Homo sapiens: one gene and its partner. The protein of the gene in region 1 interacts with the protein of each later gene in a biochemical or structural test. Each region holds a gene or a part of one and is shown on either strand. Other genes may lie near its edges.

Region 1 (4,737 bases):
TTCCTCCAGAGAGCCTGATCCAGTCCCACCGTTTCGCACCAAGGATGGAAATGGCTTTGAGACATGAGAACTGGAGACCACTAAGGCCTTTCTTGGTACTGGCTCATATTACCAAGACCCCTTTTCCTGGGATATTCCCTGTCCCTCTGCTAAGCCATTACACATCCATTACACCAGGGAGGTTCACTGAGTTACTTGTGGCTCAGCCTAAATGCGGACAATTGGGAACTAATAGCAGAGCAAGACCTAAACAGAGCAAGACTGTGAATCTGAGCTTGCAGCGTCAATCTGTGGTATAGGGACATTAAAAACAACACAAAAACAAAACAACTACTCCACTGAGCACCAATACTTCACTTTTCCTCTGATAGGACTTTCCTGGTCTCACTGATCCAACAGAGCAGGTAGGCCCCCACTGACTTTTGGTTGAGTGTGGCTTCAACAGGTGGAACAGCTCCTAAACTAGGGACAGAAGGTGCCCATCTGGCTGTCCAGCCTCAGAGTAGCAAGGAAGCACTAATTCTAATCTTGGGCTAAAAAAGACCCCTCTATCCTGATATTTTTCTCTCCTTGTGGTAATGTGGATGTTTTCAGAAGGGGCAAATCCTGTGAGGAACCAGCTCTGCAGGCCACCATACAGTGTGAGGACAGGTGAGACGCCAGCTTGGTGATGACCAAGACTTATGCAACCATAGGTTACCTATTTCACTGGCTTGGTTGTATCTCAGAGTTAAAAAATGGGGAAGGGATGGTGGGCTCGAATACAATGCAAAATAACTGTCCATACCAAATCTTAGAAGTCACTAAAGAGGACCTAATACCTGCATGGTTTGTTGTGGAAGGTAGAGAGGTATCAAGTAACGGGTGTAAAGAGGCTGTTTAATTAATGGTAATTTCTTCCCCTGGATAACACCTTGACTTCTGGTCCTAAATAATGAAATAAAACTGTTTGCCTATTTTTAAAGAAAACAGAGTTAAAAATAAGTGTGATCAGAATAGTTAGCTAGGTCTGGTAACAACAGAGATGGTGGTGACACATCAATTCACAGGCAACTAACTGATAAAATTTTTATTTCACTTTTGAATTTTTACACTTTTCCTGATTATTCTGTGTAAGGTGAAACTAGAACTGTTTAAAAGACATACACAAATCTAGTACATCAATAACCGGGGATTTTTCTTTTTTGCTATACTATTTTCACAACCACGGGTGTGCTTGCTAGGCAATATAACCATCACAGAAGCAAACGTTAGGCAGAATACTGGTAAGAAAAAACAAAGCAAGAAAAGAGCTACCAGATATACAGACAGGCTTGGTTCCACATTCACTACTGCATTTTCAAGCGCCAAGTATTAACTGCACATTTTTGTTCAGCTAGAAAGGAGGGATTTTTTTTTTTGTTTTTTTCTTTTTTTTTGGTTTGTTTTAAATCAGTGCATAAATTTTTCTTTTCTCATTTCAGCAGATGGACAAACAGATGGACTCTACAGCTAAGTGGAATATCAAAGGTAGAGGGGTGATTCTGTGAGACTGATAGGCCTGACTATTCTCAATTCTCCCCACTGCAGTGTTCACGCAACTTCCCTGAATATAGGGTCTCCTTAAACACATCTGAGCACTGACCTGGATGAGTGCACTTGGGAGACCTGGTGACAGGCACAAAAAGCATGATCAGGGCTAGCCTCAATACAGGGAGAAATCATGGATATTTAAAAATACTTTTTTGATTCAGATTCCGGTATGACTGAAGAGCAACACCGTGTTGAGAACTGGAGGAAGACAGGGTTCTGGTGCCAGAAGCTCTTCTCCAATCTTTAAAGCCAGGCTTGCTCACCAAGGTGCTCAGTAATGTCTCTCACCCCTGCCCATATATAGCATTAAAAAGTGAACAAAAGACAGATAAAGATAGAATTCAAAAAGGAAAAAAAGTAAGGAAGCAGAGGGACAGAAACTTAGAAGAGAAAACCAAGGTCAACAGTCAAAAAGGATGGTGGGAAAGAATGTTTAGATTTCAAAATTTAAAAGCCCCGAGCTAGGAAGAACCTGAAAACTGAGTACTCCTCAAGTGAAAGGCCATCTCTACAGAACATCATTCCTTTTTTTGTTTTTTGTTTTCTTTTTTGGAGATGAGGTCTCGCTATGTTGCCCAGGCTGGAGTGCAGTTATTCACAGGTGCAACCACAGGGCACTGCAGCTTTAAACTCCTGGGCTCAAGCGATCCTCCTGCCTCAGCCTCCCAAATAGTTGGGACTAGATGCACGCACCACCACGCCTGACTCAGGACATTATTCTTAAAGGTATTATCCAGGAAACAGATAAGGTCATTCATAAAACACACGGCTTTTTTTCTTTAGCTCAGTGTTAACAATGAAAGTAGATTCCACTATTGAAGCACAAGTTGCAAATTGGTAACATAGTGAACATATTGCTGTAGGAAAGGGGGTTCAGTGTGGTGTGTTATATGAGCACTTGAACTTTTCAAGGTGTCATAAGCCAGTTATCTGCCACAAAGAATTTCCATTTCAGGATTCGAGTTTCCTCAGAGGAAGACACTGTGGACATTTGTGGTCATGAACTTTTAAGTGGCAACAGCCCAAACAGGTCAAGTGTCTTTAAGTCCCGAACAACGGCAGCATTACTGTGAATTACCATTCAACTCAAATGCCAAATGATGTGTGTCTCACTCCAAGTTCCAGCATCACAATATAATCTCTATAACTTTCTGTACAACTTTACAATGGAATTGTATTTCAATGATTATTTTGATATCAGATTAAACCTTCCAAAAAGTTACACATAATTCAGGTCTATTTTTTCTACCAGTAAGAGTTCTGCTAAATTACAAAACCCCATAATCACAGTGTTCAGTTTTTAAAAAATTAAACACACAGTAATCCTGTCAATGTTAATCAAAATCAAAACTTCGGAATGCCGTGGCATTTATGTGACCAATCTGAGTTTTAGATACAAATACCAGCTGTTTATCCCATGAACCATTTTTCCTAGGCTGAGGCTGTGAAAAATCGAAAGTCGACGTACGATTCTCTTTTTTTTTTTTTTTTTTTTTTTATCGCACAAGGGATATATGTTGAGGGTACAGAGTGACACTGAACAGATCACAAAGCACGAGAAACATTAGTTCTCTCCCTCCCCAGCGTCTCCTTCGTCTCCCTGGTTTTCCGATGTCCACAGCTGCAAGAGAAAGGAAGTATAATCAAAGCAGGGCTACTAAAAGTTCCCTAGGTAAGTGGCCCAGTATGTATAATCTTATCTCACTCGACAGTTTAAAATTATTCCTGTGTCACTGCAGACAGGGATGATTGCAAAGGTCAAAACTTCAGCAGTCATTTATAACAAATTTAACAACTTAAAACTGTAACTACATTTAATGGTACAAATCCCCTCTTGAAGATAACAGTGAATTATTAAGTAGGTGAATAGGAAAGAGACTATAAACCCTGTGGAAGTAGTACTTACAGTGAGATTGTCCCTAAGTAACTGCATGATCAGAGTGCTGTCTTTATAAGACTCTTCATTCAGCGTATCCAATTCAGCAATTGCTTCATCAAATGCCTAAAACAAAGAGCCTTTAGCAAAGAATTCACAAGTTCTCTGGAGCTAGTTTAGCCCACTTTTTTTCCCGCTAGGTGAATATAACTTATCTTCTTGTACAGTACTTTGGGGGAACCTAGGCTATTATTACCCTGTCTGTTAGCTGTTTCCAGCAGAAGTATAAGGCATATTTACAAAGCACCAACCAACAATGACAGAAACTCCAAGGTAAGAACTTTGCTGTACCTAATAACTAAGCAGTATTACTGCTAACCCTAGCACAGTCATTCTGGGCAAACGCGTGTGATTTTTTAATTACCAAAGACTTTTCTAGCAATCTTCTATTTAAAATTATTTATTTATTTAAACTAAAACTCAAAATGTCTGGAAACTCACATCACTAAATCTGATTTAAGTGACGGAACTTTAAGGCACCTTTCCCGAATAAAAATGTTTTTAAAAAGTTGTGTGCATGTTGAGGGACTATAAAAAATATGTAGAGAAGGCCAAAGGAAGAATATGGAAGGTAATCCAACACACAACAAGAATGTGCTGTGTATTTCTTTTATACAACTATAACCTCAAATCTTGGCATGAGAATGACAATGTATAACCAAGGCCCAAAGCTTGGTAAGAAACAACTAACTACATTCACCTGGAACTTTCTACAACCACCCGCAAAAAACAGTAATCAAACAAAGTCAGCAGAAGGTATTGAGAATGAATTAAAAAAGTAACAGATCTGTATTTATCTCATAAAAGATACACTCCCACCCCCAGAAAATCTTTCAAAAAAAGTCCAAGACAATGAGTATGTTCAGGAATAAAATGAAGTTAATAACACAAGCACTGTTTTGCTATGGTTAGATATCACAAAGGGTCTTTCTCACCGTTTTTGCCAGGCTACAGGCCTTTTCAGGAGAGTTTAGAATCTCATAGTAAAAGACTGAGAAATTTAGTGCCAGACCAAGACGAATTGGGTGTGTAGGCTGCATTTCTTTCTTACTAATTTCAAATGCTTCCTGGTAAGCCTGCTGGGAGTTCGACACAGTGGCTGTAACATAAAGATGAAAATATTAAAGGCTCGGTTCTTTCATAGGTATCACACATTGGACCAACTATCAAATTATTTTCTCAGTCCCAAACTGGGCAGGAGCAATGACCTATCAAATGAAGTGTCAGTG
Region 2 (3,500 bases), on another chromosome or scaffold:
ATTTATAAGATAGGCACAGTAATATATTAACAATAACCGATAATAAAGTAGAACAATTCTAACAATATTCTGGCATCACTATTCTTGCACTTTGGGCCATTAGTAGTAAGAGTTGACTTAATTAGTAATAAGAGTTATTTGAACAGCCTAGGCAATGTGGCAAAAAAACATAACAAAACAAAACAAAAAATATAGCTGGGTGTGGTGGCACATGCCTGTAGTCGTAGCTACTGAGGGCTGAGATAGGAGGATCACTTGAACCCAGGAGGTAGAGGCTATAGTGAGCTGGCACTCCAGCCAGGGTGACAGAGTGAGACCCTGTCTCAAAAAAAAAAGTTACTTGAGTACAAGCACTGTGATCCTGACAGTTGTTCTGGTACTAACAGGGTGGTAGCTTATACAGCATGGATATGCTGGACAAAGGGATGATTCACATCCTGGGTGGAATGGAGCTGTAGGTTCATCATACTACTTAGAACTGCATGTGACTTAAAACTTATGAATTGTTTATTTCTAGAATTTTACATTTAATATTTTCAAACCACAGTTGAGCAAGGGTAATGGAAACTGCGGAAAGTGAAACCAAGATAAGAGGGGGACTACCGTATAGGGAAGTTAGTCACTTATGTACATCTCACACAGTAAGCTAATGTCAGGGACAACAGTAGAACACGAATTAAATAAGATTCTTCATAAAGAAATTTCTGAGCTAGGTGTGATGGTACATGCCTATAGTCCCAGTTACTCTGAAAGCTGAAGCAGGAGGATCTCTTGAGCCCAGGAGTTCCAGTCCAACCTGGGCAACATACCAAGACCCTGTCTCTTAAGAAAAAAAAAAAAAAAATTCTGAAAGCCAAAATTAGTAGGGAAATTTGTTTTGAGTTTCCTACATTTTTTCAACTCTTGGAATCAGCTCCCGTAATTTATGTTTTCCTAGGTAATTGGCTTCTAAATCTTGAATAATAAACACTGAATAAACATAGTTTTTCTTCAGTTGTTCATTTCTTCTTAGGGACAGATTCACTAATTCACAAGTAATTTGAATTATCATAACTGATCAGTTATGAAAAACTGTTACTAATTCAAGGATATTGCATTATCAGAAATGTTTTGGCAAATTTTATAAGCAGAGGAAAACCTCACATAACAGAGATAAAACCAAAAACTCATTTTAAAGGGTCATATAACAATATGTTTATAGATGTTTATTGAACTGCTGTGTATAACGCCCTGTGCTAGGTACATTATATACACAGATGAATAAGAGTAATTTCCTTCTGAAGTTCCTTAGCCATGTAAATGGAGTATGCAGTCATAAATGTGCATAATGGATGGCTGGGTGTGAATTCACCATTTTCCAAATTCTGAAGAGTAGTTGACATTATGATGGTCTGGGGAAGAAAATGATTGATAGGTTTGTATTTAAATCACTGAGTAGTGATGGAAACTAATCCAAGCCTAGCTTATATAGACAGGAATAAACCACTTAATTTTAACACAAAAGAATAGTATTTAAGTAAATCATCTACTCAGCAGCTACCATTTATTGAATGCTTACAAGTAATGTTTGGGCCTTTTTGCATATATTACTTTTCATTTTCCTCACAGTAATCCTTCAAAATAGGAATTTTTATCTCCAGTGTACAGATAAGTAAACTGAGATTAAATCTAATGTCTCACGTCAAACAGATGTGGGTCTCTAAATCACATCTGATTGGCTCCATGGCCCTGCCATTCCATTATTGACACTCTACCTCCTTTACTTAGTCCAAGCCTCAATCTCTTAACTATAAAATGAAAATAATAATAGTACTTACAGGCACAGTGCCTAAAATGTGGTAAATACTTAACTATAGATAGACATACAATCACACTCCCAAAAATTCCCAAAAATTTATTAAGTACCTAGTTTATACCAGATATTTCATATTTATAAGCTCAATCTCTAGAACCATCCTGCATGTAGGTAATTGTTAGATTTCGAGGATGAAGCTCTGAGACACTGAGAGAAGGTAACCAATTAATATGAGCCAGGATTCAAAGTCTGTGTTTCTAAAGTTATTTCCCGTTCTACACTGTCTTTTCCTTCAGTTATATGTTATATTCTCAACTCTTTATATTTTCTTTCCATGTATTTTGTACAAACATATAAAATGTGTTAGATTGTATTTTACTTCTATAATTTCCTAATCATCTCCAGTTAAAGTGTATATATATTTATGTATTCATTACAGTTACAGAGTGTTTCAAGTGCCATTCACCTATGTGACAAGAAGAAAATGGAATTATCTCTGAACATACCTGTAAATCATGGTCCACAAGAGGTAAAAAAAAAAAAAAAAAAAAAAAGGTTATATTAAACTCAAAATGTGAGAAGAATTTGAAAAAATCATTTGGTCTAAGCCCTTCTTTTATAGAAGGAAAACTAAAGCCCAGGGAGCTTTTAGGATTTGTTTGGTAGCTCATGTCAATCTCCAACTTGAAACCCAGCTGTACTGATTCTCAGTTCATTGTTCATCCCATCAAATCACAATTATTGCTTCTTTGTTTGACATTGAGTTCTGTCCCTGTCATTGTTTTATACAATAAATGATATCCCAGGGTATTATGTAGGCAAATCATTGATTACAGTTTTAACACTGTATTTATGCTACCTTGTTCTTACCTCTTATAATAATTAATGAGAGGAAAACATTGCTGCCTAGGAAGAAAGATCTCTTTAGTAGCATTCAATCAGACTTATATTAGTCTGAATTAGTAATTTCTTTTAAGAATGTATATGTATGTTCATTTTACAGAATTAGAAAAGTAACATAGATTGAGCATCCCTAATCCAAAAATCCAAAGCCCTCCACAGTCCAAAACTTTGAACACCAACATGATGCCACAAGTGGAAAATTCCACACCTGTGTTAGTCTGTTTATCGTTGCTATAATGAAATACCTAAGAGTAGGTAATTTATAAAGAAAAGAGGTTTATTTGGCTCACAATTCTGGTAGCCAGAAAGTCCAGGATTGGGCAGCTGCATCTGATGAGGACCTTAGGCCGCTTGCACTCATGTTGGAAAGTAGAAGGGGAGCGAGCTATGCAGAGAAATCACATGGTGAGACAGGATGCAGGAGAGTGAAAATGAGGAAGTCAGGTTCTTTAACAGCTTGCTCTCTCAGGAATCCACTCACCACTTCTAGAATGGCACCAAGCTATTCATGAGGGATCTTCCCCCATGACCCAAACACCTCCCATTAAGCCCCACCTCCCAACACCACCACATTGGGGATCAAATTTCAATGTGAGATTTAGTGGGGACAAACAAACCATATCAAACCATAGCAACATCTGACCTCATATGATAGGTCGCAGTCAAAACATTGTTTCATGGGTGGACACGATGGCTCAAGTCTGTGATCCCAGAACTTTGGGAGGCCAAGGTGGGTGGATCACTTGAGGTCAGGAGTTCGAGACCAGCCTGGCCAACATGACAAAACCCCATCTCTACTAAA

Evidence for each region.
Region 2: the proteins of YWHAB (region 1) and RIPK2 form a complex in vitro, tested with the Homo sapiens proteins (one study listed by BioGRID).

Annotation. Positions count from the first base shown.
Region 1 is NC_000020.11:44,904,838-44,909,574, reverse strand, and holds the end of YWHAB (14-3-3 protein beta/alpha), read right to left. Parts: intron 4,608-4,737; coding exon 4,444-4,607; intron 3,575-4,443; coding exon 3,479-3,574; intron 3,194-3,478; coding exon 3,137-3,193; 3' UTR 1,043-3,136; downstream 1-1,042. UniProt on the Homo sapiens protein: Adapter protein implicated in the regulation of a large spectrum of both general and specialized signaling pathways. Binds to a large number of partners, usually by recognition of a phosphoserine or phosphothreonine motif.
Region 2 is NC_000008.11:89,781,816-89,785,315, forward strand, and holds part of RIPK2 (receptor-interacting serine/threonine-protein kinase 2), read left to right. Parts: intron 1-2,234; coding exon 2,235-2,324; intron 2,325-3,500.